Homo sapiens: one gene and its partners. The protein of the gene in region 1 purifies or fractionates together with the protein of each later gene. This does not show direct contact. Each region holds a gene or a part of one and is shown in the gene's direction. Other genes may lie near its edges. The genes, in order: DNASE2B, HEXA, GALNT7, FSTL1, TOR3A, TCF25 and TMEM132A.

What was found.
Region 2: the proteins of DNASE2B (region 1) and HEXA purify together in Homo sapiens (co-immunoprecipitation; one large-scale study listed by IntAct). This does not show direct contact.
Region 3: the proteins of DNASE2B (region 1) and GALNT7 purify together in Homo sapiens (affinity purification with mass spectrometry; 2 studies listed by BioGRID and IntAct, with this or other methods). This does not show direct contact.
Region 4: the proteins of DNASE2B (region 1) and FSTL1 purify together in Homo sapiens (affinity purification with mass spectrometry; 3 studies listed by BioGRID and IntAct, with this or other methods). This does not show direct contact.
Region 5: the proteins of DNASE2B (region 1) and TOR3A purify together in Homo sapiens (affinity purification with mass spectrometry; 3 studies listed by BioGRID and IntAct, with this or other methods). This does not show direct contact.
Region 6: the proteins of DNASE2B (region 1) and TCF25 purify together in Homo sapiens (co-immunoprecipitation; one large-scale study listed by IntAct). This does not show direct contact.
Region 7: the proteins of DNASE2B (region 1) and TMEM132A purify together in Homo sapiens (affinity purification with mass spectrometry; 3 studies listed by BioGRID and IntAct, with this or other methods). This does not show direct contact.

The regions. Positions count from the first base shown.
Region 1 is NC_000001.11:84,401,484-84,404,983, forward strand, and holds part of DNASE2B (deoxyribonuclease-2-beta isoform 1 precursor), read left to right. Parts: intron 1-416; exon of another isoform or gene 417-417; coding exon 418-595; intron 596-3,500. UniProt on the Homo sapiens protein: Hydrolyzes DNA under acidic conditions. Does not require divalent cations for activity. Participates in the degradation of nuclear DNA during lens cell differentiation.
Region 2 is NC_000015.10:72,345,015-72,348,514, reverse strand, and holds part of HEXA (beta-hexosaminidase subunit alpha isoform 2 preproprotein), read left to right. Parts: intron 1-380; coding exon 381-467; intron 468-756; coding exon 757-829; intron 830-1,804; coding exon 1,805-1,988; intron 1,989-2,189; coding exon 2,190-2,280; intron 2,281-2,964; coding exon 2,965-3,069; exon of another isoform or gene 3,070-3,286; intron 3,287-3,500. UniProt on the Homo sapiens protein: Hydrolyzes the non-reducing end N-acetyl-D-hexosamine and/or sulfated N-acetyl-D-hexosamine of glycoconjugates, such as the oligosaccharide moieties from proteins and neutral glycolipids, or from certain mucopolysaccharides.
Region 3 is NC_000004.12:173,167,508-173,171,610, forward strand, and holds the start of GALNT7 (N-acetylgalactosaminyltransferase 7), read left to right. Parts: upstream 1-1,303; 5' UTR 1,304-1,328; coding exon 1,329-1,454; exon of another isoform or gene 1,455-2,145; intron 2,146-4,103. UniProt on the Homo sapiens protein: Glycopeptide transferase involved in O-linked oligosaccharide biosynthesis, which catalyzes the transfer of an N-acetyl-D-galactosamine residue to an already glycosylated peptide.
Region 4 is NC_000003.12:120,395,493-120,398,992, reverse strand, and holds part of FSTL1 (follistatin-related protein 1 precursor), read left to right. Parts: intron 1-1,996; coding exon 1,997-2,041; 3' UTR 2,042-3,500.
Region 5 is NC_000001.11:179,085,070-179,088,569, forward strand, and holds part of TOR3A (torsin-3A precursor), read left to right. Parts: intron 1-558; coding exon 559-824; intron 825-2,841; coding exon 2,842-3,020; intron 3,021-3,500.
Region 6 is NC_000016.10:89,894,092-89,897,591, forward strand, and holds part of TCF25 (ribosome quality control complex subunit TCF25), read left to right. Parts: intron 1-946; coding exon 947-1,046; intron 1,047-1,898; coding exon 1,899-1,992; intron 1,993-3,500. UniProt on the Homo sapiens protein: Component of the ribosome quality control complex (RQC), a ribosome-associated complex that mediates ubiquitination and extraction of incompletely synthesized nascent chains for proteasomal degradation.
Region 7 is NC_000011.10:60,930,960-60,934,459, forward strand, and holds part of TMEM132A (transmembrane protein 132A isoform b precursor), read left to right. Parts: intron 1-726; coding exon of another isoform or gene 727-729; coding exon 730-925; intron 926-1,024; coding exon 1,025-1,168; intron 1,169-2,582; coding exon 2,583-2,785; intron 2,786-3,500. UniProt on the Homo sapiens protein: May play a role in embryonic and postnatal development of the brain. Increased resistance to cell death induced by serum starvation in cultured cells. Regulates cAMP-induced GFAP gene expression via STAT3 phosphorylation.

The DNA.
Region 1 (3,500 bases):
ATGCAGCTTATGACAGGGGCTCAAAGTACCTTCCACCTCTCCTGAAGCCCAAACCCAAATCTCATATCCAGTCAGCCAACTGCATGGTCTGGGCCTTGGCCTTCTCTCCACTGTAGCCACATGGATCATGGAAGCAACAGAAAGAGCCACTCTCAATGTATATGGACTTCCACTTCAGGGACTCCACCCACCAGTATAACCAAGGTCTTAGAACATATCCAATCAGATTTTTATTTTCTTCTCTGGGGAGGAGCAAAGATAAGAGTGAAGAAAGAGGCAAAGAGCTTGAGCAAATCCCTTTCCTTAGAGGCCTTCCATGAAACAGAAATGAGAGATATATTAAAGTGTGTAATACAGTTACTGCCACAGGAAAACAGTCAATAAATGTTAGTAATTCATAATCATTTTGTCTGTTAGGTTTACTTTTTATAAGTTACCTAAAAGACAAAACAAGGAAAGTGGAGAGACTGGGTTAGAGTACCTGTACCTAGACTCTACAACTAGAAGCTGGAGGAAGAGTGAGCAACTAATGAATGACACCAAGAGTGTTTTGGGAAGGACATTACAACAGCTATATGAAGCATATGCCTCTAAGGTATGTTATATAGTTAATTGTTCACTTGAATAATATAAAATGCATAAAACTGAATCCAAAGCCTTCACCAGAGTTTTCTGTTCACCCACCCAACCCCCAATCCTAGCACCTTGAAGTGAGCTAGCTCAGGACCAGCTCAAGACAACTATCTGAGTCAATCTGACTAAGACCTGAGGAAACATGTCATCATACTCTACAGCAATGCCAAATTTACTTGGCACCATGTCCAGTGGTGTCACTAGGCAAGGTGTGAATTAATTGTATATTGAAGTCTTCTGGCTGCCAAAATGTCTGTCAGTTTGCTTATTCATCTAATAGAAATAGGGAGAGGAGCCTCTGCTGTTACAGGGCAATACAGAACTGTGATTAACATGCTATGAGTTATGGATTGTTTATATCATGGTGTTGATCAGTGGTGGTGAGCTCAGTAAAGGGTTCTACTTGATCTTCCTTTTCATTAATTGTTTTCAAAATGATATGTTGAAAACTAGGACTCTAGTTCAAGGCCCTAGAACTAACTTGTCTGGATGGAGATTATCCCTGCTATATCTGGACTTTATCAGGCAATGAGCTAATCAGCCAAAGAGACACAGGTAAGTAGGCCTGCTGGCTTATTATGGGCATGCTCCCAATATTCTAGGCATCATCTGTTGCTTAGTTTCAAGATACTGCTTTCCAACCAGGAGTGGCAAGTAAAATCAAGCCATGATTAACATCCAATTATACTCATGTATGCATTTCCTAACAATAACTTATAGACAAGTAAATATATAACATGACTCTGCTCCTATAATATGCTGGACTGTATGCTGGGCCTTTACATATGTCAAGTAATTTAATGCCCACAACAATCCTGTTTTAGCCTCTGGCACTGCACATGTGTATCTGAGTATTTACTCAAAATACACACGGAACTGTCATGGTGTGTGGTAATATTCATGTTATTTACCTGCCATTAAGACTAGCCTTCAGAGCCAAGCTACAAAGTTAAAGCTTATCTGTAGGCTATTTGAGAACATGTGATGTGCCAAGCACTTTTCTAGATGCTTTTCAAAATTATTTGTCTCAACAAACCTGCTTTGAATAAACAGACGACAGCTGACCCTTGAACCATGCTGGGGTAGGGGTGCCGGCCCTCATGCCGTCAAAAATTTATGTACAACTTTTGACTTCCTAAAAATTTATCTACTAACAGCCTATTGGATGCCTTACTGATAACATCAGTTTGACTGGATGCCTTACTGATAACATCAATAGTCGAATAACATGTAATTTTTATGTTATATATCTTATATACTATATTCTTACAATAAAGTAAGCTAGAGAAAGGAAAATGTTATTAAGAGAATCATTAAGGAAGAGAGAATATATTCACTCTTCATTAAGTGGAAATGGATCATCATAAGTGTCTTCATCCTTGTCATCTTCCTGTTGAGTCAGCTGAGCAGAAGGAAGAAGGGGAAGGGCTGGTCTTGCTATCTCGGGGGTGGCAGAGATGGGAGAGGTGGGGAAGGTGGAAGGGGAAGCAAGAGAGGCAGGCATACTCAGTGTAACTTTCACATGAAAATACATAATGAATTCTATCTATTTGCTTTTTCATTTCTCCAAAAATGTTTCTATACAGTAGTAATCATTTTTTCACCATTTGCTTTAGTTTCAGTGCCCGTATCACAGAAGGGTTCATGTTGTAAAAGAAGTTAAAAGCAATCTTTATATTTTTTTCTTTTGAGACAGGATCTCATTCGACACCCAGGCTGCAGTGCAGTGGCACCATAAGAGCTATCTGTTGCCTCGACCTCCCAGGCCCAGGTGACCCTCCCACCTCAGCCTCTGGAGTAGCTGGGACTACAGGCATGCACCACCATGCCTGGCTAATTTTTTTTTTTTTTTTTTTTGGCGGAGGGGGTGGGTAAAGATAGGGTTTCATGATGTTACCCAGGCTAGTCTCAAACTCCTGGACTCAAGCAATCCACCCATATTGGCCTCTGAAGTGCTGGGATTATACACATGAGACACTGCACCCAGCCTAAAAGCAGCCTTGAATGATCAGACTGCGTCTAATATTGATCTGTGTTCTTGCACCACCTCTTCTATGTCTTCTTGCTCATCATCTGGCTCTGGTTCCATTGAGTTATGTTCTGTTAATTTCTCTAGTGTGGTGTCTATTAGCTTTTGAATTTCTCCAGGAATCATATCTTGAAATCCATCACCCCCAACCTTTCTTGCCATATCCACAATCTCTTTCATGACTTTCTTGATTGACTCTGTCATAAATCCTGTGAAGTCATGCTCAACATCTGAACACAGATTTTTCCAGCAGGAATGTATTGTTTTGGGCTTGATGGCTTTCATGGCTTTTCCTATAACAGAAATGGCATCTTCAACGCTGTAATCCTTTCATGTGTTCTATCATGTGTTCCATAGCACTGACAATCCTTTCCAGAGAGCATCATATGTAATGAGTCTTAAAGGTTCTTATGAACCTGATTTAGAGGCTGAATCAGAGACATTATGTTTGGGGGCAGGTGGACAACTTTGACACCTTTGGTGTTGAACTCATGGGACTTTTAGTGCCCGGTGGCACTATCCAATACCAAAAGAACTTTAAAAGGCAGTTCCTTACTGGCAAGGTACCTTCTAACTTTAGAGACAAAGCATCACTGGAACCAATTTAGAAAAAGGGTTTTGTTGCCCAGGCCTTCTTATTGTACAACTGGCAGCTGGTATGTATCTTTTCCCTTCAAGGCTCAAGAGTTAGCAGCTTTATAGATAGGTGTAGTCCTGATTATCAACCCAACTGCATTTGCACAAAACAGTACAGTTAGTCTGTCCCTTCCTGCCTTAAATCCTGATGCTTGCTTCTCTTTCTTACCAATAAGTGTCCTTTGTGGCACTTTTTTCCAGA
Region 2 (3,500 bases), on another chromosome or scaffold:
GCAGCAGGTGTTAGACAGCAAGGCTTGTCATCCAACTGGAAGAGCAGATAGGAAAGCCGAAATCCAGTGTGCTGGAGCTTCAAGTTAAGACCTTGGATTCTCATGTTGCAGTCCAGAGAGGATTAATATGTTTTCTCTTTGGGAGTTTGAACTTAAAACTCTTCAGGTCCAGACTCAGCCTTTCTCAGCCTGTGTCAACAGCCCACCTGCTTCACATAACTTTGCTTGGCCACACTTTCCACATGTAGGGCTTCTGAGATCCTTGCTTATTTGATTTTTCAGGTGAAAAGAGGAAGTTATAGGGGGCCAGGTGACTAATCCCCAGGCATTAGGCTTTCAGGATGTTGAAAGATTAATCTTCATTTTCTCTTGGGATTCAGGAAGTCCAACCCAGAGATCCAGGACTTTATGAGGAAGAAAGGCTTCGGTGAGGACTTCAAGCAGCTGGAGTCCTTCTACATCCAGACGTGAGGAAGGAAGGAGGGTGGGTGGGGTCCCTTGGGGGTCCTCCTGTGGGGTCCTCCCTTTCCATACCGAGTCAGGCCCTGCTTGGCCACTGTCTGGTCCCTGCAGGGTTCCCTTGTCCTTTGTCCCATCCTTTCAGATTTGGAGTGGTTGGTTTTCAGCCCAGGGGAAAGACACTGCTTAATGAGGAATAGGCCCCTGGCCAGGCTCAACCCCTAGAGCACTGGCACAAACAGTCTAGAACCCATCTGAGCTAAGCAGACACTTACTAGACACTCCTCTCCTCTCCAGGCTGCTGGACATCGTCTCTTCTTATGGCAAGGGCTATGTGGTGTGGCAGGAGGTGTTTGATAATAAAGTAAAGGTGAGCCGGGGCAGAGAAGAGAAGAAGCCACCAGCAGTGCCTCCCTCTGGTCTCCCCAGCTCCTCCCTGCCTCTACAGAGACTGATCCTCCTGGTTTGGATTGGGCTTTAATGGTCGGAGCACTCTCCTTTTCTCTCTAGAAAGGCCACAGAGTGCTGGGTGCAGTGGCTCACGCCTGTAATCCAAGCACTTTGGTAGGCCAAGGCAGGGGGATTGCTTGAGCCTAGGAGTTCAAGACCAGCCTGGCCAACATAGCAAAACCCTCATCTCTACAAAAAATACAAAAATCAGGAGGCTGAGGTTGGGGTACTGCTTGAGCCCAGGAGGCAGAGGTTGCTGTGAGCCAAGATGTGCCTCTGCACTCAACCCTGGGCAACAGAGTGAGACCCTGCCTCAAAAAAACCAAAGGCCGCTGTGGTATGAGCCCTGGGTTTATGTGTCAGAGTTTCTATCTTCCCTCACTACAAACTTAATTAAGAACTATTTCTGCTGTTAGGTTACTTGGATAGGCTGGATTTTTCTTCCTAAATCATAGATGAGGGTCTTCTGGGTCTGTGGGACCAAGGTTACCTTCTCCTTTATTGTTGATCAGTAAGATCCCAGTCTCCTGTCACATGCAAGGACTCTTCAGGAACCTTGTCCCGTCCCCAGAAACATCTGGAGACTTTTGGACATGGCAGCTCCTGGGTCCCACTGCTTGCCTCCCTCAGCTCACAGCTGGTATTACTAGCTCTGTGTGGACAGGGAGGCTGCAGAGGGACGGGGAGGAGAGCTGCAGGGAGGCCTCTTAGGGCCCTGGATTCCTTGGCCTCTGTCCTGAGGTGTGAGCTCAATGGTCAGGAGTCACAGAGACATACTTTGCTGCTGGGGAACAGAGGGAGCACATACCTGTTGTCCCATGTTGCCTGTGTATGAATAAGGCCCAGGAATCTCCTCAGCTTTGTGTCCTTACTGCCATTTGACCTTTTATAACAGATTCAGCCAGACACAATCATACAGGTGTGGCGAGAGGATATTCCAGTGAACTATATGAAGGAGCTGGAACTGGTCACCAAGGCCGGCTTCCGGGCCCTTCTCTCTGCCCCCTGGTACCTGAACCGTATATCCTATGGCCCTGACTGGAAGGATTTCTACATAGTGGAACCCCTGGCATTTGAAGGTGAAAGCAGAGAGCTCTCCTTGCTAACCAAAGGAGGCTGGGTTGGGGCACAGGATGGGAGGCAGGAAGGTCTGGGCCAGACATTTCCAGTTAGTAAATGAAACAACTTAGCTGGGGTGAGGGCCACATTGGGAAGGTGGTTGAGAGGGACCCTGGAGTTACCCCACCATCACCAGACTGTTGTTGCTTGTTTTCCCTCAGGTACCCCTGAGCAGAAGGCTCTGGTGATTGGTGGAGAGGCTTGTATGTGGGGAGAATATGTGGACAACACAAACCTGGTCCCCAGGCTCTGGTAAGGGTTTTCGGGGGGGAGGTGGAGGGTTGGGCCTGAGAGCAGGAGTTCTCCCTTAGAGACCCAATCCCATCTAGCCACCTCTGGACTAGTACCCTTCTTTCAGGCCTGAGAGAGAGCAGGCCGTGCAACGAGCCTTCTGAAGATTTGTGTGCAATATTCACTCTCCACATGACTTCCGTCTATATCCCTCCAGCTGCCCTTTGGTATGTGGGATAGGGATTGTTAACCTTACTTCCCAGAGAGATAATGAGGCCTGGAGAACATAGGTGAGTTGCTCAAGACCCAGCACAAGCATCCATGATTCCTGTAATAAGGCTTCCCTCTGCTGTTTTCACTGCAGCCTTACCAAGTATGGTTGGGTGTGCAAAGTTTACATTTTAAGGACCTCTGCTGCTGCCACTGTCATTGTGGTTAATGATGGCTTTAAGGTTTATTCTTATTCCCATATCTTTGAGAGAGGAAGAGAGTGGGATTGCTACCCACATTTTAATGAAGGTGGAGCTGAGCCGTAGAACTCTCTGGGAGCCATCCAACCTGGCTGTGGCTCATAACAAGGTATTGATCACTTCCTTTGGCCTGAGTGAGTCCAGGGTGCCTAGACAAGAGGTAGCAGCCTGTGGATGTCCAGCACCTTTGCAGGGAATACAGGGCCCAATCTGGCACATGCCCCTTTTCCTCCAGGCCCAGAGCAGGGGCTGTTGCCGAAAGGCTGTGGAGCAACAAGTTGACATCTGACCTGACATTTGCCTATGAACGTTTGTCACACTTCCGCTGTGAATTGCTGAGGTAAGCAAGCTGTGGGGCCTTCGCAAGGCGGAGCAGGCCAGATCCAGGGCTGGGGAACCCCTTAGAGAGAGGAAGACAATAATTAACAATAGCTAACACTTACAGAGGCTTATAGTCAGCCCTCATCCACGGATTCAACCAACTGCGATAAAAAGTATTCAGGAAAAAAAAAATACAACAAAAAATGGTACAAATAAAAAATACTGTATAACAACTATTTACATAGCATTTATATTGTATTAGGTATAAGTAATCTAAGATCATTTCAAGTATATGGGAAGTTGTACATTGGTTATATGCAAATACTATGTCATTTTTATATAAGGGACTTGAGCATCCTTGGATTTTGGTATCCACGGGGGTCCTGAAACAAATCCCCTGTGGATACTGAGGGACAACTGTATTTTGTGGCAAACACTGTGCTAAGTTTG
Region 3 (4,103 bases), on another chromosome or scaffold:
TGGAGGTTGAGGTGAGCCAAGATCGCACCACTGCACTCTACTCCAGCCTGGGTGACAGAGTGAGAGACTCCGTCTCAAAAAAAAAAAAAAAAAAAAAAAAAAAAAAAAAAAAAAAAGAAAAGAAAAAAAACCCCAAAAAACTTAGGATAAAATCTTAAAACGTTTTGTTCGACTTAAATTTAAATTAGCAGTTTAGGATATAGTACACTGATAATGTAATTACATACATTCTGCTATAAAGGCATAGACATCTTTATTGGGAGATATGGGCAGAAAAATTATTTCCTCAGGGTGGGGCATTTGGCTAAACACTTGCCAATATCCTTTACTGTGTAATTTAGGTAACACAGGCAGAAAAGGCGTTTGAAAAGCAGAAATCAAGTGGCAAATATCAGATCTGAGGGACGCAATGAGGGTGGAGTTGAAATCCGTGGTCCTTGGATTTGAAACTTACCAGCCCGTGAACAAGGTTGGTATTGCTTTTGGCATAAGACGACAGCCTTTCTTTTCATTAGCTCAGGAGGAATACTGGCTTTCCAAGTGAGCTCCTCCAATCCAGTGATATTTGCACATCTCACCTGGGCCTTTCGGTTACAAATTCACCACCTTAAGGAGCCGTGTGAAAAAGCAAGAACAATCAATAAGAAGGAAAAAAAAAAACCCTTCAGCTATAAATCAGCCACGTGGAGCTGCTGCAGCAGCAGCGGTAGTCCCACTTCCTGGTTGGCTTCCTGAAAGCCTCTCGACAAGGGGCTCAGGGAAGTGGGTCTAAGGGAGAGGTGCAGACGAGAGCGACTCCAGGTCCAACGGAGGGGGCGGCGGGCCACGGGATCCCGGAGGGCACAGGCGTTAAGGACGGAGTTATTGTCCATAATTACAATAAAAGTTTGGGGATCTGAAAGCTTTAAGGAGCTGAGCTGCAGGGCAAAGGCTAAGAACCGGACTCGGGAAAAGTGCAAGTTAGTTACAAGGTAGCAGGGACTGTGAAGGGGGCTCGCGTGGAGAGCAGGGGACTGCGGATCTGGAAGGGGGCAGGTAGAGAGGAAGGCAGCCTGGCAGAGCGAGGCACACGGGTCAGTCGGAGCTCTGCGGTGGCCGCCAGAGGGGAGGGGGCCACGGGGAGGAGCGGAGGGAAGAGCCCGGGGAAAGGTGTAGCCGAGGGGAGTTCCGGATCTGGAGCTGGAAAGGGCAGGCAGCGGAGAGGGCGGCAGCCGTAGCGGTAGGGGTGGGGGAAAGAGGGGGAGGAGAGCCGGAGGAGGGGGAAGGAGGGAGGGGAGAGCGGTGGCGGCGGCTGCGCCGGGCTGTGAGTCTCTCGCCGCCGGAGGAAGATGAGGCTGAAGATTGGGTTCATCTTACGCAGTTTGCTGGTGGTGGGAAGCTTCCTGGGGCTAGTGGTCCTCTGGTCTTCCCTGACCCCGCGGCCGGACGACCCAAGCCCGCTGAGCAGGATGAGGGTGAGTGACCCGCCCGGCCCCCTCCGGCGGCAGCGACCGGCAACTTGTTTTGTTTGCCCGCGTGTGGAGGGAGCAGGGGCGGCGGGGTCGCGGCACGGCGTGGGCACCGCAGCTCCGCAGGTGGTGCTGGCGCAGCGCGGGCCGAGGGGGTGCCGAGCCCCGCGCACTCCGACCTCCCTGGCCGCCGCCGGCCCGCCCCCTCGCCGCCCCTTCCTCCGCTCTTCCCCGCCCCGGGCTCCGTCGCCGACACCCGCGCTGCCGCGGCAGCGGCTCGGGCGGCCGCTCTCCGCGCCGGGACTGCGGGCGGAGCGGGCGGAGAGCCGGGTCCGGGGGGCTGCGGCCGCCCGGCGTCCCGCTCTGGGGGGCCGGGACCGCAGCGCTCACGGCCCGGGGACGCGGGGTTGGTCCAGGCTGCGGCCTGTGGCGCGTGCAGGCCTGAAGGAGGCGAGATGCCGATGCCGCCACCGCTGGTCCGGTGGACCAGGCCCCTTGGTCCAGCCTCCCCTCCCGCAGCCGCCCGTCTGGGGGTGTTCGCAGCCCCGGGCTCCCCCGGCCCGCCCGCCGGGGAGTGGGAGGGCGATGGCGCCCCGCCTCCGGCTCTTACGGAGAGCGCGCCTCCCCCTCAACTCCGGCGGCGGGGAGCCGGGGTGCGATGCGCGGCCGAGGCCTCGCCCGGACCGCCGGTCCCCCTCGCGTCCCTGGGCGAGGGAGGGGCGGTTGGCCGGAGATGGCGGAGGGGCGTCCCCGCCCCGCCTGCCCGCCGCCCCCAGCCCTCAGCGCCTGGGGAAGCCCCTGCTGTGGCAGTGCTCGGGCGCTATCCGGGGGAAGAGGAGCAGTTCCTCTTCCTTGGCTGCGGCAGGGCTGCTTGGGCCGGAAAACTAACTTGTGTCGGCGCCCGGCCGCCCCGCGCCGGCTGCCGGCTAGCTCAGGCCGACGCCGAGGGGAGCGGCGGCGCGGAGCTCGCGGCGGCTCCGCTGGGACGCATTTGTCTGCCGCCCAGGGCGCGAGTGTTAGCGCTGACATTCCTTGGATTTGGAGGGTTTAGTCAGGCGCCTCGGAACATTAGTTACCCGGAGCCGCGCCGCGCGGGGAAGGGACCGCGGGCACTGCGGCTTCCCTGACCCGGCAGCGGGCGGCGCGCACCGGCCTCGCCCCCGACCCTGACCTGCTTCCCCCCGGATGAACCGTTGCACCACCTGCTTCCTCCTCCCCGCTGGGACAGCCAACTGGGCCGGCTGCCAGTGGGGGTAGGAGAGGGTATGAGGGGCTCACGACCGCCGAGGCGGCGGGGCTGCAGGAGGAGTCGAGTCGCTCTCTCTGTTGTAAAGTGCTTTTTGCAAGTGTGATGAGCATCGCTTCTATGTCATGTTTATTTAACTTTCCTTCTGGAAAGTTAGCATCAAGAAGTTGGGCAAAAAGGCTTGTGGCGTCCTTTCAAGAGTAAGAATCCTAGGAGGAGATCCCATTATCAGCTCTTCGCCTATATCATGAGATTAGATGTAATCTGGAAGTTTTAGTATTTGAAGTCTCTACAGCAGTGGAATCCCTTTGTAATATCTGGGATAGATTCCCATCTAAGTCATCTAAATTGATGGTAATAAAAAGTATCAGTTTTCCTTTTCAGTACATTTGCGGTTTTAAGCTTCTCAGCTCATGGAGTGATGGTGATCTTTTTATAATTTTGCTCTCAATATGACTTATTGACAAAGGATAACTGAATATTGCAATTGAGGATATTTGTTTTAAGTCATCAAATGGCTTTTTACATGTAGCTAGAAATGTTTAACCCCCTATTTTCTGGTAGAGAAACTGACGAAAAACTGACAAAACTAGCTAGGTTCAGAATGTCCCGCCCTTCTGATGATCTTTTAAAGAGGTGGCGGAACATCAGCATCACTTGCCAACTCGTGGAATATTTTATTAGTGCAAACAAAGGATGGGCCATAATGCCCATTTCAGTACTATATGGTGATGATAAAGAAGGTGATGATATCTTGATTTTTTGTTTGTTTCAGTGTACTTGATAAAGTTTCTCAGTGGATCCAGTGTAATTTCTGTCATTTGTCAAAAACAAAAGGTAGATTTTAAAGACTTAACATAATTAACATTAAGAGGAATGCTTAGGTATCAGAAGAGCAAGAAAGACCCTTTTATTGGCTTCCCAGGTAAATAGTAATACAAGCAATTTAAAGTGTAGCTTATAAATAATAAGAGCATAAATAAGGGATTATTGCCTTCCTTTAATAAAGACTAACCTAGGAGCTTTTAAGGTACAGTGCTAGAAGGACAAATCCTGTAGGGAGGATTCTGACTCCTGAGTTTCTCCTCCCCCTTGTGGTTCTTTTACTTCGATGACTATTGCATATATTCCACCCATGGTGAGATCTCTGCTTCTCTTTAATGCTGATCTACACATGGACTTTTTTGGATCCCTTTAAATAGCCTGAACGATCCAGTTTACCAGGTATGGGTTCTGCCTCTACTCCAGCAAGCTTGTACCTGTGGCTCCATTCACCCTGTGCCACTTTTTGTCTTGAACTATGAATATGTCATACACTAAATTCTGTTACAGCCTTGACAACTTGGGATGGTCCTTTCTCATCTGCACTATTTCCTTGTTTTAGGTCTGTCCACCTGTGGAGTCAAGAC
Region 4 (3,500 bases), on another chromosome or scaffold:
TGTGCATTTTGTCATCATTGTCACTGATAGTATAGAAATCTCATGTCGGTTGTTTAAGCAGAAGCAAAAGCTTCTAGTCTTTTGCTTTTCAAATTTCACCAGTCTTGAGTCTCCAAATGAGTTCAATCCCATGAAAGAGAAAAAAACTTCATAGGAATTACTTTCGTCTAGAATATCAGACAGTACAGTTATCAGACAGTACAGAGTGAATTATAGTAGCTAATATGTTTAAGTTTCTGTGTTTGATGTGAGTCCCCTCAGAGCAGATGCTGAGGCAAGGATGCAAGTACACATAGTTTATTTGGGAAGCAATGCCAGGAAACACCAGAGGGAGATTTGGGAAATGAGTCCAGAAAGAGAAGGAAGTAATGAAGAGTGTGTATTCAGGCATGTTACCACTGTTAACAAGTGACTCTTAATCCTATTGGGGATCTCTGGGAATGGAATAACAGTGCCTGAGTGGGGATGAAGCTGGGCTGTTTCTACAAGAACTCCCATTAGCCATTGGCTGAGGGCTGCTACTGGGAAATGTTAATTCCCTGGCATTTGTGGCCTATCAGTGTGTGTGGACAGAGTGGGCTCCAGCAGCCAGAGAAAGGCCTCAGGCAGAGATGCAGGTGCTGGCAGTAGGTAGGAAGTCATGCCAGTGTACACCAAGACATTAAACACAAAGGGGCGATGGATGGAACACCAGTGTCTGCTAGATATCAGGCAATGTTGTCAGGTTTTAAAAATTTATTTCTTTAATTGAGATATGATTCATATACCATAAAATTCACCCCTTTAAAGTGTATATTCCTAAGATTGTCAATCATCTCACTACTATCTTAATTCCAGAACATTTTCATTATCCCAGAAAGAAATCCCATACCCATTAGAAGTAACCCTCCATTCTCATCTTCCTCCAGCCCTTTGCAGCCACTAATCTACTTTCTAACTATAAATTTGCCTGTTCTGGACATATTACAGTGGTATCATACAACAGTATAGCCTTTTCTGTCTTTGACTTAGCATAATGTTTTCAAGGTTCATTCTTACAGCATGAATCAGTACTTCTTTCCTATTTATGGCTGAGTAATATTCCATGATACGAATATACCACATGTTGTGTTATCCATTCATCATTTAATGGATATTTAGGTTGTTTCAATTTGGGGGCTCTGATAAATAAAGCTGTTAGGAACATTTTCGCACAAGTTTTTGTGTGGACACATGTTGTCAGCTCTCTTGGGTATTTACCTAGAAGTGGAATTGCTGGGTCATACGGTGACTCCATGTTTAACCTTTGGAGAAATGGCCAAACTGGTTTCCAAAGCTACTGCACCACTGTACATCTTCACCATAGAGTTCCAATTTCTTCACATACTCACCAACGGTTTTGTTATTGCTATTTTTTATTTTAGCTGTCCTAGCGGGTGTCAAGTGGTTTTGATTTGCATTTCCCGTGTGATTAATGATGTTGAGCATCTTCTTATGTCCTTATTGGCCATTTTGTGCCAGGCACTGTTGTAAGAGATGGTACTTTATTACTGTGGTTTTGCAGTTGAAGACATTGAGACACAGAAGATTTCATAATATGCCCAAGGTCACCCAAAAAGTAGCACAGCCATGGTTGAAGCTCAGGCAGTCTGCCTCCAGAACCTGTTGTACTTAACACTTCTTTGGACTTGTTGGATTAAGAACATCTTGTAGCATTTCCATTTAACATCATTTTCTTCATCCTTAAAATGGGAACCATAATGTCTGATCTGCTTGTTTCATAGGAGTCCAAATGGAGTCAGCTTAATTCAGTAAACAGCCCCTGCATGACCATGTCATGAATAGGCCATAGTTCTTGTTCTCAAATTGTTCATTGTCCGTGGAGGAGCCCGACAAGTAAACAACTAAAATTCAGCATAAGCTTGTAAATGCCAATGCTATATAGTCTTGAGGAACAGATAAATTCCAACAGTTGTTTAATATTTCCATGACGCCTATTTTCTCTTGCATCTCAAAGGAAACAGCTGAAAAGACCAAGAGAGTGAGCACCAAAGAGATCTAATGAGGAGGCACAGACCAGTGTCTGGATCCCAGCATCTTCTCCACTTCAGCGCTGAGTTCAGTATACACAAGTGTCTGCTACAGTCGCCAAATCACCAGTATTTGCTTATATAGCAATGAGTTTTATTTTGTTTATTTGTTTTGCAATAAAGGATATGAAGGTGGCTGGCTAGGAAGGGAAGGGCCACAGCCTTCATTTCTAGGAGTGCTTTAAGAGAAACTGTAAATGGTGCTCTGGGGCTGGAGGCTAGTAAGGAAACTGCATCACGATTGAAAGAGGAACAGACCCAAATCTGAACCTCTTTTGAGTTTACTGCATCTGTCAGCAGGCTGCAGGGAGTGCACACGATGCCAGAGAGAACTTAGCAGGGTGTCCCCGGAGGAGAGGTTTGGGAAGCTCCACGGAGAGGAACGCTCTCTGCTTCCAGCCTCTTTCCATTGCCGTCAGCATGACAGACCTCCAGCATCCACGCATCTCTTGGTCCCAATAACTGCCTCTAGATACATAGCCATACTGCTAGTTAACCCAGTGTCCCTCAGACTTGGATGGAGTTTCTGGGAGGGTACACCCAAATGATGCAGATACTTGTATACTTTGAGCCCCTTAGCGACCTAACCAAATTTTAAAAATACTTTTTACCAAAGGTGCTATTTCTCTGTAAAACACTTTTTTTTGGCAAGTTGACTTTATTCTTCAATTATTATCATTATATTATTGTTTTTTAATATTTTATTTTCTTGACTAGGTATTAAGCTTTTGTAATTATTTTTCAGTAGTCCCACCACTTCATAGGTGGAAGGAGTTTGGGGTTCTTCCTGGTGCAGGGGCTGAAATAACCCAGATGCCCCCACCCTGCCACATACTAGATGCAGCCCATAGTTGGCCCCCCTAGCTTCCAGCAGTCCACTATCTGCCAGAGGAGCAAGGGTGCCTTAGACCGAAGCCAGGGGAAGAAGCATCTTCATAAAAAACTTTCAAGATCCAAACATTAATTTGTTTTTATTTATTCTGAGAAGTTGAGGCAAATCAGTATTCCCAAGGATGGCGACAAGGGCAGCCAAGCAGGGCTTAGGATATCCCAGCCTACCAATATGCTCATTCGACTAACTAGGAGGGTGAGTTGGCCCTGTCTCTTCTTTTTTCTGGACCTCAGTTTCCTCAGTGAGCTGGTAAGAATGCACTAACCTTTTGATTTGATAAGTTATAAATTCTGTGGTTCTGATCATTGGTCCAGAGGGGAGATAGGTTCCTGTGATTTTTCCTTCTTCTCTATAGAATAAATGAAATCTTGTTACTAGAACAAGAAATGTCAGATGGCCAAAAACAAGATGACCAGATTTGATCTCAGCCTGATGACCCTACAGGTCGTGCTATGATATGGAGTCCTCATGGGTAAAGCAGGAAGAGAGTGGGAAAGAGAACCACCCCACTCTGTCTTCATATTTGCATTTCATGTTTA
Region 5 (3,500 bases), about 95 Mb from region 1:
ATCTTTAGGAAGGGTGATTCCACTCTCCCTGAGTCCCATCTTGATTTCCCAAACTCTTCAAAAAGTAGTCCTTGAGGCTGGGCGCAATGGCTCACGCCTGTAATCCCAGCACTTTGGGAGGCCGAGGTGGGCGGATCTCGAGGTCAGGAGTTCAAGACCAGCCTAGCCAACCTGGTGAAACCCGTCTCTACTAAAAATACAAAAATTAGCTGGGTATGGTGGTGGGCACCTGTAATCCCAGCCACTCGGGAGGCTGAGGCAGGAGAATCGCTTGAACCAGGGAGGCGGAGGTTGCAGTGAGCTGAGATTGCGCCACTGCACTCCAGCCTGGTGACAGAGCAAGACTCCATCTCAAAAAAAAAAAAAAAAAGAAAGTAGTCCTTGAATCCCTTCTGCTACAAAGTCTGCCCTCTGGCTTCTTATTCTAAGGCCAAACAGGAGGAGTAACTGATTCCACCCGAGAGAGATTCAGAGTTGCTTGGTTTCTTGGCTGTTGGCTGTTGTGGTGGATGGGCCTGTGTGTGCCTTTTGCTGTGACTACCTCTTTCCTGTCCTTAGGCTTAGAGTGGGACCTGAATGTGCGGCTGCATGGCCAGCATTTGGTCCAGCAGCTGGTCCTAAGAACAGTGAGGGGCTACTTAGAGACGCCCCAGCCAGAAAAGGCCCTTGCTCTGTCGTTCCACGGCTGGTCTGGCACAGGCAAGAACTTCGTGGCACGGATGCTGGTGGAGAACCTGTATCGGGACGGGCTGATGAGTGACTGTGTCAGGATGTTCATCGCCACGTTCCACTTTCCTCACCCCAAATATGTGGACCTGTACAAGGTGAGGCCGACCAGGGCTGGGGTGAGGCCTCTGTGCTGGGAGGGAGACCCTTCTGCCAGCCCTTCCTTGCAAGGAAATGGGCTCTGGAGAAGCCTGGGGAGGTGGGGACAGGTGGCAGAACCTGTGACAGAGCCACTCCGTCCACTCCTCACAGAGGCCCTTAGCATGTGGAAGAGACTGGCGTTCCAAACACCACCCCCTGCTCTGTCCCCAAACAGCCACACTCGAGAGGCTGGACACTGCGCTTAAGCAGGGACGCTGCATGTTGATTTTTGTTGTAGAAGTAGTGAAATGTCACAGACTGCAGTGTAGAACAGAGAAAAGCAAAAACTGTCAGACTCTCCACACGGACACACCCTTGTCAGCTAAGGAGAGGTAGCATTTTATGTGCTGCCTTTGGTGCGGAACCTTTCCCCAGGCTCTTTGTCATTGTAACTACGTTGGACAGAAAGTTGTATATCCTGCCTTTTTAAAATTTAAACAGGCCTATTGGCCGGACATGGTGGCTCACGCCTGTAATCCCAGCACTTTGGGAAGCCTAGGTGGGTGGATCACGAGGTCAGGAGATCGAGACCATCCTGGCTAACACGGTGAAACCCCGTCTCTACTAAAAATACAAAAACTTAGCTGGGCGTGGTGGCGGGCACCTGTAGTCTCAGCTACTCGGGAGGCTGAGGCCGGAGAATGGCGTGAACCCGGGAGGCGGAGCTTGCAGTGAGCCGAGATCGTGCCGCTGCACTCCAGCCTGGGCAACAGAGCAAGACTCCATCTCAAAAAAAAAAAAAAAAAAGAAAACAGGCCTATCCTATCTTACCTGATTTTTTCATGTCTTCCCGTATCAGCTTATTATATACCAGCAAGTGGATGGACAGAAATTTCCTTGGCTGTTCTGCCATTTTGGGTTTCTTCTACTAATTCAGCCATGTAGTATTGAAAACATACCAGAAGAGCCTGACAGAATTGACTGCACCTGTCTTTGGCTTTGTTTTAATATTTGGAATGTGTTCACCTGGGAAGATTATGTCAGCGTCTGAGGACAGAGGCTGCCCGCGTCTCCTGGCAGTTTCCATATGGCTTTGGAGGGCAGGGGCAGGCTGAGCTGGGCCTTTCCGGGCAGAACTGTCTGGCTTAGACTGTGGCAAGACTGCTGCAGCCCCAGCTTCCCTGCTGTGAAAACTGGCATGTGCATAGCCCTGCACCTCACACTTTCCCCCACAAAGGTGCACCCAGTAGACAGGGAGTGTGGGCTCTGGAGTGGGAGCTGGCCCTGAATAATATATTCCCTGCCCATTTCGATGAACATTGCAAAGAACCATCTTTTCACTTGAGGGTTTACTGTCTTGCCTGGGGCAAGGAACCCTCCACAGCTTGCAGGAGCCAAGTTGGATGTTGGTTAGGCCCAGTCAGTCCTTCAGCAGGCTTGCTCCCCTGAGATCTCGGCCCAGCCAGGGTGCCAGTGGGCGCTCTGCACCCGGGAGTTCAGGGCAGGGGACTGTGGCTGCCTCTGGGCACATGAGCCTCTCTTTGCCCATCACCCCTGTATGAAAGCTCAACTCCTATCCACCCCCTGGGAATAGACCCTGAGCTTAAACAGGGAAGTTGCGCCTGGATGTTTTTGTTGTAGAAGTAATGAAAGTTTGCGGGTGTGTGGACATTGTTAGCTCCTGGATGGGATGTAGTCCTGGAGAGGAGAGAGCAGGGCTGGAGCAGGGGCCCCTTCTCAAGGGCAGAAGGGCTTCTCCCCACTCCTTTCTAGGCTGTCTCCTAGTCCCCAAGCTGGCTTCACCTTGTTTAGCTTTCAACCCTCAGGGTGCTTGAGAATCACCTGGGAGCTGGTCAGATGCAAATGTCCTAGGCCCTCCCCAAGAGCTTGGATTTGATAGGTTCTGGCGGGGGGCGGGGGGTGGGGAACCCAGCCCCAGGGGGTCCATTGCACATGCCCAGGGGAAACCACGCCCTCAAGGCCGGAGGTGGAAGGAGTCACCACTTCCCCAGCTGCTCCCTATATCCCGTGCAGGAGCAGCTGATGAGCCAGATCCGGGAGACGCAGCAGCTCTGCCACCAGACCCTGTTCATCTTCGATGAAGCGGAGAAGCTGCACCCAGGGCTGCTGGAGGTCCTTGGGCCACACTTAGAACGCCGGGCCCCTGAGGGCCACAGGGCTGAGTCTCCATGGACTATCTTTCTGTTTCTCAGGTGGGTTCTGGGGAACAATAGTCAGGAGGGCTGGGGGAGGGGAAGATACTAGCTGGCAGTGGAGGCTTCCACACGCCCCCAGGTTCAGAACCTTTCCTCAAGAAAAAACAGCACAAACTCTGGTACAGAAAGCAGCAGCCAGCTGTGGTAGCTCACGCCTGTAATCCCAGCACTTTGGGAGGCCAAGGCGGCCGGGTCCCTTGAGTCCAGGAGTTCAAGACCAGCCTGGGCAACATAGTGAAACCCCATCTCTACAAAAAATATAAAAATTAGCTGGGCGTGGTGACATGTGCCTGTAGTCCCAGCTACTCGGGAGGCTGAGGTGGGAGAATCGCTTGAACCCAGGAGGTGGGGGTTGCAGTGAGCTGAGATCGGGCCACTGCACTCCAATCTGGGTGACAGATTTTTTGAAACAAATTCCCAAGGCAAGCCTGGTTAGAGAACGGCATAGTCTCCCATCAAGTCCAACACGGCCATTTC
Region 6 (3,500 bases), on another chromosome or scaffold:
CTCAGCCGTTCCTGGGGACCGTCGCAGTAGTGCCGTGTGATGCAGGCCCAGGACTCTGGGGCTTCTCACTGCTGCCCTTGCCTCCTGCGGCTCAGTGCAGGCGAGCAGCTCAGATTCCCGGCCCCCGTGCAGCCCCCGGACGGCCCCCACACGGCCCCGGACGGCCCCCGCGCAGCCCCAGACAGCCCCGGACCTGGACAGTCCCCGTACAGCCCCGGTGCAACCCTGGACAGCCCTCATGCAGCCCCTGGACAGCTCCCCTTGCAGCCCCGGACGGCCCCCGCGCAGCCCCAGACAGCCCCCGGGCGGCCCTCACGCAGCCGCCGGACAGCTCCCCTTGCAACCCCGGACAGCCTCCGCAGAGCTCCCCGTCATCTCCCTGTGGGAAAAGCAGGCTGCTGCTTTCCATTCCTCTTTCTTGGGGCTTAGTGGGGAGTTAGGTGGCCCCTGGCCTGGGCATGTCAGGTTCTGAGTTCTTGCTTTAAGTCATATAATTGGTTCAGCTTAGCAATAATAACTAGCCTATTTTGAGTTGGGGGGACGTTGTGAGTGTCGACCCGGTAATTCCCCCGTTTTTGTTTTTGTTTTTGGAGTCGGAATCTCACTCTGTCGCCTAAGCTAGAGTGCATTGGCGCAGTCTCGGCCCGGGTTCAAGCGATTCGCCTGCCTCAGCCTTCCGAGTAACTGGAATTACAGGCACACGCCACCACACCCGGCTAATTTTTGTATTTTTATTAGAGACCAGGTTTTGCCACGTTGGCCAGGCTGGTCTTGAACTCCTGATATCAAGTGATCCTCCTGCCTCAGCCTCCCAAAGTGGTGGGATTACAGGCGTGAGCCACTGCGCCCAGCCTCCGCTGGTTTTAAATGTCTGAAAAAAAGGCATGCCTGGGAGCTGGGGCCTTGCTGAGTGCCTTTCCTCCAGGGCTGTCCTCCCTTCTGGTAGGTTCTGCTCCAGACGAGCCCTTACCACGTTGACTCACTCCTGCAGCTCAGCGATGCCTGCCGCTTTCAAGAGGATCAGGAGATGGCTCGAGACCTCGTAGGTAAGGCAGAGCCCCCACCCCATTCCCCTCAGCTGTGGGAGCACCTCAAGCTATCAAGACAGATGCGATGGTGTAAGATGACAGGGGTTGCCAGGATATCCATGACAGCTTTATTGAGATACAACCTACGTAGCACAAAACTTACCCATTTAAAGTTTTTGTTTGTTGGTGTTTAATATATGCCACAGCCTCCCGAGTAGCTGGGACTACAGGCGCCCGCCACCAGACCTGGCTAATTTTTTGTATTTTTAGTAGAGATGGGGTTTCACCGTGTTGGCCAGGATGGTCTCGATCTCCTGACCTTGTGATCCACCCACCTCAGCCTCCCAAAGTGCTGGGATTACAGGCATGAGCCACCACGCCCCGCCCTCTGGCTTTTATTTACAATGAAGTTTTCAAGGTTCATCCTCACTGTAGCGTCGATCAGAACGTCGTTCGTTTTTATGGCTTAGTAATACTCCACTGTGTGGACGGACCACATGTTGTGTATCCATCATTAGTTGACGGCCGTGTGGGCTGTTGTAAATAATAGTGCTTACGTCAGCATGCACACGCAGTCTTAGGTGGACACATCTGTGCTGCACACATGGACGCCTGGTTCTGTCAGGACGTGGCAGCAGTTGTGCCTCATGGTGTTGAAAGTGTTACCATGTCAAGCTCACAAGTTCTGTGGTTGAAATAAATGCAGCGTGGCATCCAGGGTGCCCAGGGGCATGTCTGCCCTCTCAGTGTCCAGGACTCTAGTTTCGTGACCTTCCGTCCAGACCTTTCCTTGTTGTCCATTATCAGAGGAGGGGCCGTGGTTGCTGTGTGTGGCCATGACACCCTCCCCTGGCGTCCCTGTGCCCACAGAGAGAGCGCTGTACAGCATGGAATGTGCGTTCCACCCCCTGTTCAGTCTCACCAGTGGGGCCTGCCGGCTGGATTACCGCAGACCCGAGAACAGGTGAGTGCAGCTGCCCTGGAGGTGACGCAGCTCCCCTTCCCTTCTCCTGCGAGTGAGGCTGGGGGAGGTGCAGTGGGCACCTCATGGCTGCCCTCCAGGGTGGACCAGGGCCCACAGGTCCAGAGTGACCCACCTTCCTCTCTCTGGGCTTAAGGATAGAGGGATGGGATTGTCTCAGCCCAGGTTTACCTTTGTCTGTGGACATGCCTGATGCTACTGTGGAGGTCAGAGTGGGAGGTCTGCTGAGCCCAGGAGTTCAAGTCCAGCCTGGGCACCATAGTGAGACCCCCATCTCTTAAAAAAATAAAAATAAAAATAAATGTTTGTGTTAGAAGTGAGCCTGGCTGGGCACAGTGGTTCACGCCTGTAATCCCAGCACTTTGGGAGGCCGAGGTGGGAGGGTTGCTTGAGCCCAGGTGTCAAGACCAGTCTGAGCACCGTGGCAACATGCAGTCTCAAAACAGCATTTTTTTTTTTTTTTTTTTTTTGAGACGGAGTCTCACTCTGTCACCCAGGCCGGAGTGCAGGGGCGCGATCTCGGCTCACTGCAAGCTCCACCTCCCGGGTTCAAGCCATTCTCCTGCCTCAGGCTCCCGAGTAGCTGGGCCTACAGGCACGTGCCACAACGCCTGGCTAATTTTTTGTATTTTCTAGTAGAGACGAGGTTTCACTGTGTTGGCCAGGATGGTCTCCATCTCCTGACCTTGCGATCCACCCGCCTCGGCCTTCCAAAATGCTGGGATTACAGGCGTGAGCCACCGCGCCCGGCCACTACAGAACATTTTAAAAACTAGCTGCGCCTGGTGGCGCGTGCCTGTGGTCCCAGCTACTTGGGAGGTTGAGGCGAGAGTATCACTCAAGTGAGCCCAGGAGGTCGAGGCTGCAGTGAGCTGAGATGGTACCAGTGCACTCCAGCCTGGGCAGCAGAGTGAGACCTTGTCTCTCAAAAAAAAAAAAAGAAGAAGAAGAAGAAGTGAGCCTGAGAAACCAGATCTCCACAGTGGGCTCTGCAATTGCATTTCCTTCTATGTTTGGCTGAGAAAACCCATCCCTGGCAAGTTTAGAAGCTTTGGAAGGCTTTGCAGGTTTGACCTTAAATCAGTGAGGAGCTCAGAGTCAGCCTGACCCTCGCTCCCCTGTGCTGAGCGACCGCATGTGGAGGTCTCTCTTCTTTCAGATACTTCTGCCCCTAAAGCCATCCCTCTGGCATCAGGCCTCGCTGGTCAGACCTAGACTGGCTTCCGCCAGGCCTTCCCGCAGCCTGTCCTGTGGGCCCTTTGTGGAGCAGACCAGCTTCTGTCCGCTGTCCTGCCTCTCCTGTGTGCAGTGCCCTGTTTCTCTGGCCGCCCTGGGTTGTCTGCAGTGTGGGATCCGCTCCTACCCTCTCAGCCCTCCTGGCAAGCCAAGGTCCGCTGACCCGTTCTGCACAGATTGTCTGCACTGTGTGCTGGGTCTGAATTTCCTCCACTGGTTTTCTTTATGTTAGTTTTGTCTCTTCCAATGAAATT
Region 7 (3,500 bases), on another chromosome or scaffold:
CCTGCTTCCACCAAATGATCCTTTCTCTGGGCCGTTCACATTCCCCCAAAAAGCCCAGCTGCAGTTCTGCGGTTGTGAACTCTTCTTATTCATGCCCTGAGCCTGGGTCAAGGCCATGGACTCAGTAGCCCCAGTTCGAATTCTGGTTCTGATGCTTTTGGGATGGGCAAAACCTTGGGCAAGCCAGTTAACATTCCCCTACCCAAGCCTCAGTTTCTTCACTTGTGAAATAGGAATAATAATGCATCCCTTAGCATTTTTGAAAATAAAATACAGTGCTACATATCAGGCACCCAGGACGGTTCCCAGCACATAGGTTTTTGTTTGATCAAAGGAAGCTTATCATTCAGAGGGTCAAGTGTCTGGTCCTGGGACCTGGAAGTGAATCTCCCGCATGCCACCTCAGTGGCTGTGGAAAGCGGAAGTCTGGGGGAAGCGGGCCCGGGCAGGCAGGGGAGTGAGCCACCTTGCCAGGTGGGAGGTGGTTAAATGGCTTCATGGATCTTAGAGAGGCCAAGAGTGGGTCAGAGTTTGGGGTCTAGAGCGAGGATGCTTGGGTTTAGATCCCAGCCCCGCTACTTTTTGCTGTGTGGTCTTAAGTGAGCTATGTAACCTCTGTGCCTCAGTTTCCTCCTGTGTAAAATGGGGATAATCATGAATGCAGGAAGTGCTGAGGCCATGCCTGGCAGCTAGCAAGCATTTGGCTTCTCTGTCTCCTTTGGCCAGCAGTCCCCTTGAACTGTCTGAGTTCCTATGGGTGGACTTTGTGGTGGAGAATAGCACTGGTGGGGGCGTAGCGGTCACTCGCCCCGTCACGTGGCAGCTGGAGTACCCAGGCCAGGCCCCTGAAGCAGAGAAGGACAAAATGGTGTGGGAAATCCTGGTGTCTGAGCGGGACATCAGAGCCCTTATCCCACTGGCCAAGGTAAGGAGACCTCCATCTCTGCCTGGGAAGGCTGGAGGCCAAGTCCCAGGAGCCCCATGAGCTGAGGGGCCTGGGGCTGAGCCCCTCCTCCACCCCCAGGCTGAGGAGCTGGTGAATACAGCACCACTGACTGGAGTGCCCCAGCATGTCCCCGTGCGCCTTGTCACTGTGGACGGCGGGGGGGCCTTGGTGGAGGTGACAGAGCATGTCGGCTGCGAGTCTGCCAACACACAGGTCCTGCAGGTGAGTGGCAGGTGCCCAGCTCATGTGAGTCTGCATTTGTGTGGGCACAGTTACGCACACACACCTTTCCTCCTTCCTCATGTGGGTCCCCAAGAGAACAGCTTCTTCTTGAGACGAGAAACCTCATGGGAGGAACCACAGCTTCAACTTCTTTTGTTCCAGCCACCTCTCTCCCGAGTCAAGTAACCCTAACAGCCCCCCGACCTTAGACACTTTCACGCTCATTATTGCACTGGCAAGTGCGCTGGCCTGAGAGAGTCGAGAGCACATACTCTGGGATCAGAAAGTTTTAGTTTGAAACACATCTTTGTTGTCAACCAGCTTTGTGATCATGGGCTGGTCTCTTAACCTCTCTGAGCCTCGTTACCTAAACTTTAAAATGAGAACATATCTTCGGGTTGTTGTAAGAATTAAAAGCACTTTAAGACAGTATTTAGCAGATAGCAGGGGCTGAAACAATGGCAGTTATTGCTGTTATAATATGATGTAATAATTATACAATGGTAAAAATTATTATTATTATTATTACCGGTGATTGTGAAGTGAAATAAAAGGGAGGGTGGTAGAGCAACTTCCTCTATCTTGAAGTTCTAAGAGGGGAAGCATGGAGTCTGCATGTATGCAAATCCCAGCCACCTGAAGGGGGAAGGTGCCTTTCCCCACTTGTGGTCCTTTGCTCAAATGTGTGTGGTTCCTGCTGGAGGGCCTTGGTGGGAGATCTGCTTTGTCCCACCTCTGCCTACCTGGCTGTAGCTGGTTGCCAGGTGGCTCCAAGAGCAATGTCAAAGGCCAGCATGAATAAGGAGCCAAAGTTTTGGGTTCACACCCCTGCTCTGCCAGGAGGAAGACTGGTATGCAATGGCCAGTTCCCCTGACTGAGCCCCAGGGAACCTCAAGGAATGGCCCCTACAGTAAAATCTTAAACAAAGAACAGGGGCTTAACCAACAATCCTGCTGCAACATGCATTCCAGTGACACACAGAGCTGAACTCAGTGGGAGCCCGTCCTACGGCCTGAGGTCAGGGCTGCTCTCTTCTGGCCCATGCCTTTTTTTTTTTTTTAATCTATTTATTTTGAAACAGAGTCTCACTCTGTCCCCAGGCTGGAGTGCAATGGTACAGTCCGGCTCACTGCAGTCTCAGCTACCCAGGCTCAAGGGATCCTCCCACCTCAGCCTCCCCAGTAGCTAGGACTACAGGCATGTGCCACCACACCCGGCTGATTTATTGTATTTTTTGTAGAGAGGGAGTTTTGCCATGTTGCCCAGGCTGGTCTCAAACTCCTGGACTCAAGCGATCCACCCACCTCGGCCTCTCAGAGTGCTGGGACTACAGGCATGAGCCACCCACCCGGCCCAGCCTCACACCTGTCTTTAGTGGCTTAGCCCGCCCACCTGCCCTCTGCCCTTCCATAGGTGTCTGAGGCCTGTGATGCCGTGTTCGTGGCTGGCAAGGAGAGCCGGGGCGCCCGGGGGGTGCGAGTGGACTTCTGGTGGCGCCGGCTCCGCGCCTCGCTGCGGCTGACCGTGTGGGCCCCCCTGCTACCGCTGCGTATCGAGCTCACCGACACCACCCTCGAGCAGGTCCGCGGCTGGAGGGTACCTGGCCCTGCTGAAGGGTGAGTGGAGGCCTGAGGAAGCTGGCAGGCCTTGGCGAGTCACACTGGGACGGAGAGGGCGCAGGGGACACAGCCATGGGCCCAAGTCGGGGTCAGAAAAACTGCCCTGTTGCTTGCAGTTCCTTCTGCCCACCTCCACCCTGGGCCGCCCAGCCAATGATCGCTTTCTGTGAAATTGCTGACTTCCGCATCCCTCTCCTCCTTCCCTGCCTCACTTCTCCCGTAGCACCCTCCACTTCCTAATCTACGTCAGTACTGGTTAATGTTGCCTGTCCATCCTTTCCACGCTCCTCCCCCGAGAATGTCAGCCCCTTGAAGCTGCGGTCTGTCTATGCTGGTCGTACCCTCAGAGCCTAAGATGACACAGAGCTCAGGAAATGAACACCCTCGGAGGGGGCTCCCCAAAACCCAGGGAGAGGTGGCCCACGCCTCTGGAATCTAGCTTCCAGGCCCTTCAGAGAGTGAGCGCCCCCAGGGTCCCCGTAAGAGAGCGTCTCCCCTGCGGTCCACTTGGGAGCAAGAGCGGTGATCGAGGCACAGCGCCAGTCGGGAGTGGGCTGGGGCGGCTCGCCTGCAGGTGGAAGGGCCTGACCCCAAGAGGGGCGGATGTCTGCGTTTGAGAAACAGGAGCTGCTGGTGATTAGGAGCCGCCGGGGACGAGCTGCGGGTCTCCAGCAGCTGGGCCCTGGGCAGGCTGGGGCCGCTCAGCGCTGAC